4 linked regions of the Homo sapiens genome follow. The protein of the gene in region 2 purifies or fractionates together with the protein of the main gene of each other region. This does not show direct contact. Each region holds a gene or a part of one and is shown on either strand. Other genes may lie near its edges.

What was found.
Region 1: the proteins of CSTPP1 (region 2) and NCR3LG1 purify together in Homo sapiens (co-immunoprecipitation; one large-scale study listed by IntAct). This does not show direct contact.
Region 3: the proteins of CSTPP1 (region 2) and SPECC1L purify together in Homo sapiens (affinity purification with mass spectrometry; one large-scale study listed by BioGRID and IntAct). This does not show direct contact.
Region 4: the proteins of CSTPP1 (region 2) and PCDHGB4 purify together in Homo sapiens (co-immunoprecipitation; one large-scale study listed by IntAct). This does not show direct contact.

What each region holds. Positions count from the first base shown.
Region 1 is NC_000011.10:17,365,300-17,368,799, reverse strand, and holds part of NCR3LG1 (natural cytotoxicity triggering receptor 3 ligand 1 precursor), read right to left. Parts: intron 1,792-3,500; coding exon 1,453-1,791; intron 1-1,452. UniProt on the Homo sapiens protein: Triggers NCR3-dependent natural killer cell activation.
Region 2 is NC_000011.10:46,939,642-46,944,955, reverse strand, and holds part of CSTPP1 (centriolar satellite-associated tubulin polyglutamylase complex regulator 1), read right to left. Parts: intron 1-5,314. UniProt on the Homo sapiens protein: Regulator of the tubulin polyglutamylase complex (TPGC) that controls cytoskeletal organization, nuclear shape, and cilium disassembly by balancing microtubule and actin assembly.
Region 3 is NC_000022.11:24,416,035-24,418,238, reverse strand, and holds the end of SPECC1L (cytospin-A), read right to left. Parts: 3' UTR 501-2,204; downstream 1-500. UniProt on the Homo sapiens protein: Involved in cytokinesis and spindle organization. May play a role in actin cytoskeleton organization and microtubule stabilization and hence required for proper cell adhesion and migration.
Region 4 is NC_000005.10:141,390,698-141,394,197, reverse strand, and holds part of PCDHGB4 (protocadherin gamma-B4 isoform 1 precursor), read right to left. Parts: intron 1,566-3,500; exon of another isoform or gene 1,385-1,565; coding exon of another isoform or gene 1-1,384. Other genes in the region: PCDHGA8 (protocadherin gamma-A8 isoform 1 precursor), read right to left, coding at 1-1,384. UniProt on the Homo sapiens protein: Potential calcium-dependent cell-adhesion protein. May be involved in the establishment and maintenance of specific neuronal connections in the brain.

The DNA of each region.
Region 1 (3,500 bases), about 30 Mb from region 2:
CTGCTGGGAACTGTGTGGTTGTGTCATCCTCCTTGTCAGAGATTTAACCACCAGCCCTCTGCCACATGTCTCAGCATCTCCATTCCTATCACATACACCTCCATACATCAAACAGTGTATGTAGCACTTGCCAAAAATATGGAAGATGAACACCACGTACCACATAATTGTGCTACCCTCATCTTCAAACCTTGTGTAATACGACACCATCTTCTATCCCTATGTGCATACCACATAGACAACCCCTCGTACCATACATGCAAGGTATATTTCCATTTCATACTCCCCATGGACACACATACCCTCCCTGCATCCCTGCACATGCCACCCACACACACACCTAGTCCTAACTTCCAAGAATAATTCCTCTCTCCCCAGGATCATCCTGGGCCCCATATGGCATTGCCTGACCACATTCCTCAGTGCCCCAGTCACTCCCTGCCTTCCTTACTCTTCTCAGCCCCAGGGAGATGCATTTTACCAGCAGAGCCACCCACACCCAAGACCAGAGCTATGACCAAGGCATATGAGCTCAAAAAGCCCCAGCCCACCAGCAGGAGTGGGTCTGCCGTGAACTGTGTTTTAAGGATCCAGTGTGCCTGGGGAAGGCATTGAGCATTTGCAGAACCACTCTACTGTAGCCCTCCCCATCTTGGGACACAGCCCATAAGACAAGACTACTGGCCGGGTGCTGTGGCTCATACCTGTAATCCCAGCACTTTGGGAGGCTGAGGCGGGCGGATCACCTGAGGTCAGGAGTTCGAGACCAGTCTGACCAACATAGAGAAACCCCATCTTTACTAAAAATACAAAATCAGCCGTGCGTGGTGGTGCATGCCTGTAGTCCCAGCTACTCAGGAGGCTGAGGCAGGAGAATCGCTTGAACACGGGAGGTAGAGGTTGTGGTGAGCTGAGATCACGCCATTACACTCCAGCCTGGGCAACAAGAGCGAAACTCCATCTCAAAAAAAAAAAAAAGACAAGACTACTGAGTCAGCCTCTACCAGCCAACAGTTTACAGTGGACCTAGAGCCTTATTAGAAGGGCTGCTAGCAGGACTGGTCCCTGGCCCCTGATAGCCCCTTATCCTCAGGGAACACGGGTAGGATACTGTCCCCATTCCCCTAGCAACTGGCAGGTTTCCTATTTCAAGCCATATGGACCATCCAAAACCCTGAAGCTGCCATGAGCTGACAAATAGCCCTGCTCCACCTGATGACTACAGTCACCACTCTCCACCTACTAAGACCATCATCTGCCCAGGTGTAGGGACCTAGGCTGGACTGCTGACTCTGGGGCTGAGCTAGGCCAGACTCCAGCTTGGTCCTTCCAGTCCAAGCTTTCTCTGTTTCCCCTTCAGTCCCCAGCTAAGACCCAGGCTGTGTGGGAATAAGTCTTATGTTATAGTCCCTCAAGGCAAGGAAGAGAAGAAATGTCCAGAAAGACCCTTACCAGAAAGACTGTGCCGAGCAGCAGTCAGGGTAAAGTTGCTCCTCAAGGGGGTATGCAAGGACGCATGCCGTACCACACACTGGTAGACAGTCCCAGGGTCTTCCTGAGAGGAGTTCAGCTTCAAGCAGCTAGTGACATTAAATGTGCCATCCATATTCTTGATGGTGGGACCAGTGATGACATCCTCAGAAATCTCTATGGGATGGGGAAACTTCTGGGTCTGCTTCTCCCATGTTATATTAATAGCCTCTGGGTAGAACCCACTTGACTCACACATATATTTGTCTTCATTCTCTTTCATGCCCACTTGATCCAGCAACAATCTGCTGGCTGGGGAAGCTGTCAGGGAAAAAAAATCATACAGAGTTGGGCCCAGCACCCTTTTATCCCCACCACACCTTATGCTAACTGGCTTCTACCATACCCTCACAGCTATGCATCACTGCTCCTGTAGCCAGATAAGACAAAAAACACAGGATGCCTACTCTTTAAAAATGCTGCAACCATGTCCAGCAATGAGCTGGAGATTTACAATACCAGACTGGGCACTCCTTAAGGGTAGGGAGGGATTAGCTTATTATCAGCCTGACATCTGAGCCATGGTAAGCCTTCAGGACATGTGAGTGACTGAATGCAAGTCAGCTTGGGCTAAATATTCTGGGTATGTTGGTGCCAGTGCCAACCGGGTACTGACATGCTGTGACCACAACTCTCACAGCAATTTTGTAAAGCAGAGTTTTCTTAAGCTGTGTTGTGAAACAGACACCTTTCATAATCTGAGGAAAGCCTTGGAACACTGTTGTGGTAGAGACTGCTAATTGCTCTTCAATTTCCATTCTGTGCATTTTTAGCTGGCCATGACATATCCAGATTAAACCTGTATCACCCAACCTCCACTGCAGGTATGTTTGGTCATGCAAACTCAGGGGTCTAGTAGGCCTGGATTTATGCAAAAGTGGCAAGAGCAACTTCTAGGAAGTATCCTTAAACTAAAAGGATGTCTTAAAAGACTGTCTCTTTCTCTCTCTCTCCTTATTTCCTGCAGAATGTTTGGAATACTATGTGATGACTGGAGATGGATAAGCCATTTCCAAACACAAGGTGGACGATACATACTGAAGATGGCAGAGTGACAAGATAAAAGGATCATGGGTCCCAGATGATCACAGAGCTAGCTGCCATATCTGCCCTGGGCTGGCTACATTAGTGTGAAAGAAAAATAAACTGCCATTTCCAAAGCCACTATTGACTTCCAGGTTTCCCTCTCACATGAGAGGTCATCACTCCCACCCTATAATAAGAACAAAAGCTGAACAAATTGAAAATCAACAGCTTTTCTTAGATTCCTCAGAGAATTGAAGTGACAGGGCAAACTGCCACTCAGAAAACTGGAGAAAGAAGGAGATTAAGAAAATTACAGCTAAGATCAAATCACCTCATGCAGAAGCTGCTGGAGTCATAAACCAGTAGAAGTACTTAAGCAGTAACTCCGACAAACTGCTAAAGGATGAGTGTGGACTAGCTTGAGAATAAAAACCTCCTCAGGTCCTGGTCTTAGGGATGCTTACCACACTTTCATGGGTTTTCATCCTCGGGACCCAGTCTTGGGGATGCTATCACACTGTCATGAGTTTTACTTCCAGGAACCCCACCAGATTCTCACAGTAAAGAGCCAAGAAAAATCTCCTCCTCTTTCTGGGGGATGGAAAGAAGTAATCATTTTAAAATATACCTAGATTATTCCCTCCATCTCAAGGGAAGATGTCAGAGCCTTATCTGACCTGAGAGAAGAAAATTAGCCAACTCCAGCTGTCTATAGCCTTTCTGTATTACTTAAGAAGAGAGAAAGAGAAAAGGCTAAGAAACACTTCTGAAGGCCACAGTCCAGAGGCTCAGGCCACTAAAAGAATAAGATTTAATCATAAAAGTATAAACAGATTCTCCTCCAACACTTTACTACCACATCAACAGGGCTCCAGTATAATAACAGAAGATTATAAGTGAGAGAGCTACAAGGCACAGAACCTATTTAAGGAGTTCATAAGGAA
Region 2 (5,314 bases):
TAAAGAAGTTGTATTAACCTCATGGCTGGAAGAGACTATATCAGTAACTGTTAGATGTTGTCTTAGCTCAGATACTGTGAGAAACAGACACCAAAACAGGATCAGACATGCGAGAGATGTACTGGGGGAAACGCCCATGATAGAAAATGGGAAGGAAGCCGGAGGAGTCTGGGAGAGCTAAGAGATCAAATGCAGGTGTGACCCTAATTTATTATCCCTCCTTTAGGAGGGACCCTAATTATTATCCCTCCTTTAGGAGGGAGAAGGGAGAATGAGGGACTTAGCAGTGTGCAGTGAGAGTCTTTAAGCCAAAGTCACCCACTAGAGGAGTAAAACATCTCATGGAAGTGGGTCTGTCCTGCCCAGTCATTGACTAGGAGCAGTCTGTGGAAAGTGTGACCTCAGTGTGAACAAGGTGTTAGATTCAGAGCTGGGGTCAGGAGTCAATTACCCTCCCCTCCCCAGTGTAGGAGATCTGAGAGGCACACATTCCTGGTTGCCACCAGATGTTTACGTATTTGCACAAAAATATGGTAATAACACTAGCAGCTAATATTTATTGAGCACCTACACAGGTGCTCTAACAGGATAAATGCTTACATGTATGAGGCAAGCACAATTTTTTTTTTTTTTTTTTTGAGAAGCAGTCTCACTCTGTCACCCAGGCTGGAGTGCAGTGGTGAGATTTCAGCTCACTGCAGCCTCCTCCTCCCGGGTTCAAGCAATTCTCGTGTCTCAACCTCCTGAGTAGCTGGGACTATAGGAACACACCCCCACGCTCTGCTAATTTTTGCATTTTTAGTAGAGATGGGGTTTCACCATTTTGGCCAGGCTGGTCTCGAACTCCTGACCTCAGGTGATCCACCCGCCTCGGCCTCCCAAAATGCTGGGATTATAGGCATGAGCCACCATGCCTGGCCTTTTTTAAATTTTTTGAGAAAGGGTCTCACTTTGTCACCCAGGCTGGAGTGCAGTGGTGTGAAAACAGCTCACTGCAGCCTTGACCTCCTGGGCTCAAGCCATCCTCCCACCTCCGCCTCCTGAGTAACTGGGACTACAGATGCATGCTGTTGCACCCAGCTATTTTTTTTTTATTTTTAGTAGAGACGAAGTCTCACTATGTCCCATTGGTCTCAAACTCCTGGGCTCAAGCAATCCTCCCTCCTTGGCCTCCCACAGTGCTGGGAATATAGGCGTAAGCCACCATGACTGTACTATTACCACCCACATTTTGGAGATGTGGAAACTAAGGCACAGAGAGGTTAAGTGATTTCTTCTAGGTCATACAGCTACCCAAAGTACAAAGATGATTGTCAATAAAATTCTCCCAAATGGTAGAAGTTATCTTCCTCACTGCCTGCCTCTGAGAGATGAGTCCAGTGGCAAGAAGAAATTGGAAATTTTACCATTCCCTGATCCATCCTCATTCCTCGGATGCCTCCTCATGGCAGAAATGTTAAATGAAGACACTGGAATCACTTGACCTTACTCCAGGATCCACGTATAGGTCTACACAATAGTTGGAGCCCCACTTTGGGAGTTGCTCAAAGTATTTATAGCATAGAGTTTAACCATGTGGACTTCAATTAGACTGCTGGGTTAGAATTCTGGATCCACCACTTACAACTTGTTATTTGGTATCTTTGTGTGTAGTTTCCTCATCTGCCGAATGGAGATAACAACTGAAACTATCTTCATATACATCAATATATGTAAAGCATTTAAAATGGTACCTGGTACAGAGTAAGTTCTTAATAAGTCTCGGTTGCTTTTGTTAGCTACTCATGTTTAGGGTACCCTAAGGTCAGATTATTCATATTCCATTTCACATATACGTATGAATTAAGTGTAGGAGAGTATACAATGATAGAAGGTATACAGTGATAGAAGGTAGACAATGATAGAAGGTTGACAATGATGAGTAAAACACAATTCTTGTTCCCAAGAAATTTATTTGCAAGAGCCTCATCCTTAATAAGGAAGCAAGAATTACTGCCCTTTGAACCAATAGGGGTTTTTTGGTTTGTTTTTATCTTTTTAGTGAAGAGGAAAAAACACAAGCTGTGGAATATGACAAACCTGGGTATGAACCCCTGTTTACTATGCATCATTGCCTGTGTGACCTTGTGCAAATCAATTAGCCTTTCTAAGCCTCAGCTTCCTTATTTATAAAATGAGAAGATGATATTAATAACTACTAATTGGGACCAGTAAGAGTACCCACTTCATATGGTAGTTGTGAAAATTAAATGAGATAAACCACAGTGCCAGGCATATAGGAAGAGTTCAAAAACTATAGCTTAAAAAAAAAACTACCCAATTTATTGTGATTCTTCTAAATGTCTAGTCCCCAAAGGAGAAAGGCCATCTTTGATTTCTAGAGTTATCTATTATACTAACCCACTATCAACCGTAGTGAGAATAAGCAGGTTCCATGGAAAAGAAGAGGCAACTTGGAGCGTGAGTGAAAGCATGCACCTCACCAAATTAGGTGGAGTAAAAAATAAACCTCACGCCCTCATGCTTATACTCAGGTCAGCACGTAGGTGGTATGTTTGGCAAACCTGGGACCAGAACAGGCTGCCCTTTGGCTCTAGAGAGCTCGCCACACCCAACCAGATACACAGACACACCTTCAGCCTCTGGCAGAAGCTTCCACTAAGTAGGTTTCATAAGGCTGGAAACCTTTTGCGGGTCCTACAGAGAGGGTCTATACTTATTTCATCTCCTTACCAGACTCTCCTTTCTCTCTTCAGGCCTAGGCATTAACACAATTTTTATCACTACATTCTGATGACTGCAGACATGAACATCACTAAGCTATTCTTTAGTGATGATCTTAAGATCTTAAGCCATGCAAGGCCATGATTACAGGTTCCTAATCTACAAAGTCAGTGGGGAAAGGATCAGTTTACCCAACATGATAAAAGATTGATTTCTTCACTAATAGTCAGAAAGGTAAATACAATCCCTAGCTAGCAGGGAGAAAGGGATATCTCTAGATATTCTTTGGATAGGTATCCCTGTAATTTACACCATAATCCTAAAGAGAGGTCTCCAGATACACTAACCAAGGGGAACTCAACTTTAGCTTTTGGGTTTCACTGAATGCCTAGGGCTTTCCAGTCTGCAGTTTTGTTTTCTCTATAAGTATAGTCTTCTTTAGGCTTACACATACAAGTAACTTTATAATGTATAAAAATAAAAACAAATGGAAAAATCACAGGTATTTAAAAATTTAAATCAGGAAATATTTTATTAATCTATTCTGTAGGGAGTGGTTTTAAACGGTCATTAGATTGAGGGTGAATAGGTTGGCCAGGCGTGGTGGCTCACACCTGTAATCCCAGCACTTTGGGAGGCTAAGGTGGGTGGATCACCTGAGGTCAGGAGTTCGAGACCAGCCTGGCAAACATGGTGAAACTCTGTCTCTACTAAAAATACAAAAATTAGCTGGGCATGGTGGCAGGTGCCTGTAATCCCAGCTACTTGGGAGGCTGAGACACGAGAATCACTTGAACCCTGGAGGCGGAGGTTGGAGTGAGCCAAGATCACATCATTGCACTCCAGCCTGGGTGACAGAGCGAGACTCCGTCTCAAGAAAAAAGAAAAAAAAAATTGAGGGTGAATAGGTCAAAGCAGCATGCCTCTAAGAGAGACAAATTGTAAAAGGCAGGGATAGTTCTCAACTAAAGACAAACGCATTTCAGCAGAGTGATACGGTTTGATGAACCAGGAGAAGGCAGTGAGGGGTGTGACCATGCTGAGGGCAGTATGAATGTCTAGTTAGTGGTTAGGACAAGGAATTAAGACACTTAAATATGCAACAAAGCATGAAGAAGCATTTGTATAGGATTCAATTATTAGGTGATTGGTTGGGCTTCACAAACATTGAAGCTTTTTCAACCAACCTGAGACTCTGATTCTGTTTGTAGATTCATTCTCAACACTGCCACTGAATTGGCCTTCCTGAAAACGCCATTTATGAAGAGACCACCAACTTCTATTCACCAAGGCACCAATACACCAAATCTGCCAAGCCTTTGAGACATAAAATTCAAACAGCAAACACCCAAGGAACTGAACAATGAACTAGCCTTTTCAAATATTTCATATATTCATTGAGTACTGGGTAATAAAATACATAAAATCTTTGGAAAAAAGTCTAGGCATTGCTTGACATTGATACTGTTATTCATTAGATACAAAATTGTCTGTGATATCCCCTTTTAGCTGATTAATGGATGTGGTCACTGTCTTAAGCTCTCTCTCTATATATATGTCTATATATATGTTCATGTATATATGTGTATATATATAGCTTTCAAAGACCAATCAGCCCTTAAACTTGGTAAAAAGGCACTCAACTTCATTTAAAAATGCATATTAAATCTACTCAGACTATCTGTCACTTAGATTGAAAAAAATCCAAGTTTGATGTATTTTGTTGTCAGCACAATGGGGAAACAGGCATTCTCTTTCATTGCTGGTGGCAAAATGGTACAACACCTATTAAGGGCAATCTGACAATATCTATAAGTACTTCAATGCATATGCCCTTAATCCACCAATTCCACTTTGTGGAACTTATTCTTGCAGATACACTTGCAAAGGAACAAAACTGCAGGTTATTCATTGCAGCATTCTTAGTAACAGCAAAAGGCTAAAAACAACTTGTTTACCAGTGCGGGACTGGTTAAATAAATTATTTAAATACTATATAGCTAAAAATGAATTTCATGAAGAACGAAGAAGCTCCCTACTGACTGAGAAATTACTTCGAGGCCAGGCGCAGTGGCTCACGCCTATAATCCCAGGACTTTGGGAAGCCAAGGTGGGCAGATCGCTTGAGCTCAGGAAGTTCAAAAGCAGCCTGGGCAACATGGAGAAACCCTATCTCTACCCAAAATACAAAAACTTAGCCAGGTGTGGTGGCTCGTGCCTGCAGTTCCAGCTACTTGAGAGGCTGGGGCAGGAGAATGGCTTGAACCCAGGAAGTGGAGGTTGCAGTGAGCCGAGATGGTGCCACTGCACTCCAGCCTGGGTGACAGAGTGAGACTCTGTCTCAAGAAAGAAAGAAAAGAAAAAACAAAAGAAACGGAAATTACTTCAAGATGTATTAAATGAAAAAGTATGCACTGTATACTCCTTTATGTATATAATAAACTCTGGAAAGATACACAGGAAAACAATAATAGTGGTTACTTTTGGGAGGCTGAGGATGGATGGAAACTGGGCAGATGGAGGCAAAGGGGTAGGCTTTTCACTAAAAACATCTACCTATCTATCTATCTATCTATCTATCTATCTATCT
Region 3 (2,204 bases), on a different chromosome or scaffold from region 2:
GGTGCAGCTCCCAAGCACTTGCAGGTCACAGTGCAACTCCTGGCTTACTCAGGGCCAAGGCAGTTGCTGGGCTCCCAACCCTGAGGAGTCTCCACCTGGGAAGGGCATTCACTACATGCCCTCGTGTGCAGGAAGCACCACCACCATGGGCCTTTTGCATGTGACGTGGACAAGGTGGTAAGTGTTCTCCAGGCCAGCTCAGTGCATTCACAATCACTGTAGTGACTCACACCTGTAATCCCAAGGCTCTGGGAGGCCAAGGCGAGAGGATTGCTTCAGCCCAGAAGTGCAAGACCAGCTTGGGCAACATGGCGAAAAGCCCATTTCTACCAAAAAAAAAAAAAGAAAAAATAAATAAACAAACTGCTGGAGATGGTGGCACACACCTGTGGTCCCAGCTACTCAGGAGGCTGAGGTGGGAGGATTGCTGGAGCCCTGGAGGTTAAGGCTGTGGTGAGCCGTGATCGACCCCGTCTCGAAAAAACCAACAAAAAACAATGCACAGGCAAAAAAGTTTATCTGGTTGCCTCTGGGTAGGATACCTTTTTTCTTTTTCTCTATTTTATACATCCTGACAATTATTTCCAAGATGATACATGCCTCAAAACAAACAAAACCCCTCGAGACACACTCCCCAGCCCCCAGGGAAGGCATGTGTCTGGGCTGTGTAGGGGCTTCCGCTCTCCTGGGGGTAGCTCTGCCACGGTCTCTGGGGTCTTGGCATCTGTCACAGAACCCTAGTGGTTACAGGGCTCACTGTCCCACAGCCCCAGGCCACACGGTGATGTGCTGTGGCCCAGGGGAGGCCACCCTGGACTCCTGGTCAGGATCTGCCCACATGAGGAAGTGCGCCTTGGGGTAGGGCCACAGGCTGGCTCAGAGGTGCCCTTCTCTCCACAGCCAGTCCCAGGAGGGAGCTGGGTTCTGGTTTATGCGACGTCAGAGGGACGGCAGGGAGTGGAGGGCAAGCTAGAAAAGCCCAAGCTTGTTGTTTCAGCCATTTTAATACATTCAAGAATATTTACTAGAACAACATTTAAACGTATCGTCGGTCCGCAGAAGCCTGGGATCGAGAGAAATAGAAACGCGACTGGCCCTTTTGCAGTAAAGCTTGTGCTTGAAGGGAGAAGAGGCAAAGTGGCTTCTTGGAGACTTCGTGCCAGATGCCACAGGACTGAGAGCATCTCCAAATGTCACTTTAAACACGTGTGAGCATCTATAGTCATTCCTAAAGCCCACAGTGTCCTAAGGATCCTATTAGACGAGGCAAAAGGCAATGCTTCTGGAACCCTCTCCCTTGCAGCTCTGCACGCAAACCTTCCCCAAGGAGGGGCCCGAGGCAAGCCTCTAGATAGGCGGGGCCAAGCCCTCCCCGTGCCCACCCTCTTTCCCTGTTGCTGACCTCAGGCCTGATGCTGGACCCATGAGACTCCCAGAGGGAAAACACAGATACAGCCCATCCATCCATGGCCACCTTCCTCCAGAAGATCCTGGGGACCCCTACCCCCCCATCCCATGAGGCACCAGGGCTGGGCTCGCATGGCCAGCAAGGGATAAAGTTGGGAACTGCAGACCAGGGGAAGCCCCCTCATTCTTAGGGCAAAACAGCCCCTGAAGGACAAAATAAATAAACCAAACCATGACCAGACAGCTGGATCCGGACAGGTGGAGTGGCCTCTGTGAAGGCAAATGAGAGCAAAAGTGGGAACTGAGGACACCTAAGTGGAGAGACACTTAAAAACAGTAATTCTCACATGAACATCAGTGGCTCATGCCAACAGCAGAGCTGGCCATCAACAGAGGAACAGCAACAAAAACACAACTCAGACAGGGGGCGGGACGGGGCCAGGAGTCTGCGGGGGTCTCTGATATGCTTTGTGGCATGACTTTGCTTGCCTGGCCTCTCCTTTCTTAGCTGAAAACAGGCATTTCACCAAAGGGCATCCAGCCAGCGGCAGCAGCCTGAGCTCCCAGGCTGACATCTGGGCAGGGCTGATGGGCAGCTTCTGGCCATCTGGTGACCAGGTGTGCCGCCAGCTGCACCCACATGCACAGCCCCTTTCCTAATAACCACATTCTAGGTTACGTAGACACGTTAAACTCCTATTCTAGAACATCGTGCTTGAATGCAGACCCCTCAGCCCACAATCGGGCTGGCTGGGCCTCCTGTGAGCCCCTCATTGCATCCAGTCTGTGGGGCAGTG
Region 4 (3,500 bases), on a different chromosome or scaffold from region 2:
GGATATACGCTGAGTAGGAGGCATGAGGGAAAGTAGGAGGGTTGTCGTTAATGTCTGCCACGTGCAGAGCGATTTGAGTTTCAGTGGACAGAGGTGGTGTTCCTAGATCTGAGGCCATCACTGTGATATTGTAGATAGAGACATTTTCTCGGTCCAAATATTTCCTTGTCACTAATCTATAATAATTACCTATTGACTTTTCTAATTTAAAAGGTAAATTATCACGTGTGTAACAGACAACTTGACCATTCTTTCCAGAGTCTTGGTCATGCACACTCAAGAAGGCAATTACTGTCCCGGGAAGAGAATTTTCTAACACTGGGCTAAACAAAGACGTAATGATCACTTCTGGTCTATTGTCATTTACATCTTCCACCGAAATGAGCAATTTGGTCCTCCCCAGAAGTGCCCCCACATCTTCGGCTTGTATTTCCATTTCATAAAATGAACATTCTTCATAATCTAGACTTTTTGCTATTGATATTTCCCCAGTATTTTCATTAAGCTGGAATAACGGAGTTTGTTTTTCATTAATTTTCCGGAATTTGTATGCCACTTTTCCGTTGATTCCCTCATCCGGGTCGCTGGCTGTTACAGTAAGCAGCCGCGTGCCTGGGGGCATGTTCTCAAGGACTTTCACTCGGTAAATCGGGTGAGGAAAAACCGGGGCATTGTCATTTGTATCCAACACTGTCACGTGGATGCGCACTGTGCTAGAGCGAGGCGGCTTGCCGCCATCCGAGGCCGTGAGGACCAGGTGGTGAGCAGCCTCTTCCTCCCTGTCCAGGGCGCGCTCCAGCACCAGCTCTGGGTTTATGGCTCCATTGTCTCCAGTCTGCACGTCCAGGGAGAAGTGGTGATTGGGGCTGAGCTGGTAGCTCTGGAGGGAGTTCACGCCCACATCCGGGTCAACAGCTTCTGGGAGTGGATAACGTGCTCCAGGAACCGCGATTTCGTTAATTTTTACTTCTAGATCTTCGACCTGGAATTTTGGGTTATTATCGTTAATATCAATTATTTCTATTTCTACCCCAAAGAGTTTTCCTTTATCCTCAACCAGGGTGTTAATATTTATCAGACACCGCGGGCTCTGAGCGCAGAGCTCCTCCCGATCTATCCTGCCCGCGGTGATCAAGCTGCCGCTGCGCGGGTTCAGAGCAAAGAGCTGCGTCCTACCTCTGGAGACGATACGGACTCCGTGCTTCGCCAGCTTCCGGGGGTCCAGCCCCAGGTCCTTGGAGATATTACCCACGAAGGAGCCTTTGTCCGTCTCTTCTGGCACAGAGTAGCGAATCTGTCCCCTCCCGATTTCCCACAGCGTTCCCAGCAGCGCGCACAGCAGGATCAGCTCGCCGCGTCTGGGGCGACTCTGTGGAGCGGCCATTGTTGTTTTGCTGCAGAATCCTCTCAGAATCTTCACTGTGCATAAATGGGTCTTATTTAGTTTCTTGCCGCAGCTATGGAGATGACAATCCTCCGGAAACCTGGAGTGCCTCCAAACAGGGGTCGGGTTTCGCTGCAGTCCAGCAGTTAGTTTGTGGCATCTGCGGGTCTTCGTGAGGTGTGAGATCTGAGTGTTTTCGGTTGCATTTGTCTTCCAGTAGGTGAACAGCGGCGCTTACAGTCCTAAATAGTTACTGCACTGAGATACAGATTACTTCTAAATGTAATACTCTACTAGATTACTGAGAAAAAAAAATCATTTGCTTATTACTTTGTTTTGAATTTATTTGATTTATCCGTAAACCCATATTTTAAAAGAAACAGCCAAAGAATGTGAGATGAAGGTTTTATTTAGTGTTATTAAATGATCAGATTAGATCAGAATGATCAGATTGTAGCATCGGATTAAATTACTCACATTTCTGCAATACATTTGGTCTTAAAAAAAACATGATACTTTCATTTCCCATTGTGCTCTAAGCTTTATTGTAAATGTCTCCAATATATACTAACAAATAACTAAGAACTTCAGTTGTCACCAGAAATGAATTTATCTTGAGACTAAAATAGACCTACTGGAGATGACTGACTCAGAAATTGTTTTATTTGGTTTAAACTACTTAATCATTTTACAAGCTTTCTATAGAGTTGTTGCTTTTAAATTATTCTTCTAAATGCCACTTGAATTACATGTCGATAATATTTTCAAATAAAAATTGTGGAATTTCAATAGGATAAATGCTTTTACCATTGCAGTTTTATGAGATATTACATTGTTTTGCTATTTTATTTACATTGTTTATATTTTTCTATTTGAATACTTGAAAGGTACAGATGAATATATGATAAAAAGCAAAGCTCCATCCCATCCCTTTCACCAAAGAGATGATTAAATTTAAAGCAGACTTGACTTTTACATATATTCTAAAATTAACTTTACCTACATTAACACTTTGATCTAAAAAACTGCAAAAAGTAATGACTATATAATACTTACTAAGAAGCCAAAGGATAAGTATGACTACAAAAAAGTCTGTTTCCCTTCAAGACCAGCCTGGGCAACGTAGCAGATGAACTTATTTCACCCTTCCTTTGAAGACTGGTATGATAGTTTTTTCACTGACTAAAACTTTCTTAAAACCACTCATGAAATCTGAAAACTTTATATTTTCCTGTGAATATATTTTCTTATGCATATGGAAAACTGGGTAGACAATGGAAACCATACCAGTTAAATTAGTGAAAGAAAATATTTTCTCTACTGAAAACAGAAAAATTAGCCAGGTCTGGTGGCATGAGCCTGAGTTCCAGCTAGTCAGGAGGCTGATGCAGAAGGAATGCTTGAGCCCAGGAGTTTGAGGCTGGAGGGAGCTATCATTGTGCCACTGCACTACAGCCTGAGTAACAGACAGAGACTCTGTCTCAAAAAAAAAAAAAGAAAAAAAAAAGAATCGAAAGACGTTTCCTTCTTTCAGCAATTTGTAAAGTGGCCATTAACTGAAGCAGTTGCTTAGATATACCTAGCAAAAGGCTCATATAATGTTCCTTGGTATTTTGTATATATTTTGTATGCACACCAGATTGGCAGTTTTCAAGACTATATTTCTTTCCTAGAGGTAGGAGAATGATTAGAAGACCTCTAGCTATATTAGTTTAGGGCTGCAGATAAGGCAGTTACACATTATATATTAGGGCTGTGTGTGAGAGGGACAACAGACACAAAACATTGTCTTTTCTTTGATGAAGGATATAGAATGAGCTTGAATACAGATTAATCCTGAAACTCCTATGTTACAAGTAAGGAGAATCTGCTTTTGATCTTCTAATGAGCATAGTAGACCTTTTTCTAAGTAAAAGGATCTCTCTCACACACACACACACACACACGCACACACAGCGTACACTGCATATAATCACAAGGGGTCCATGGACATAAAAATCCAGTTGACTCCTTATTCTAAGAGCTTTTGAAACAAAAGGGAAGTTAACACAGGAAACAAAACAGTGGACTACTATGGAGACCATACCAGTTAAATTAGTTAAGAAAAGTGTTGAAT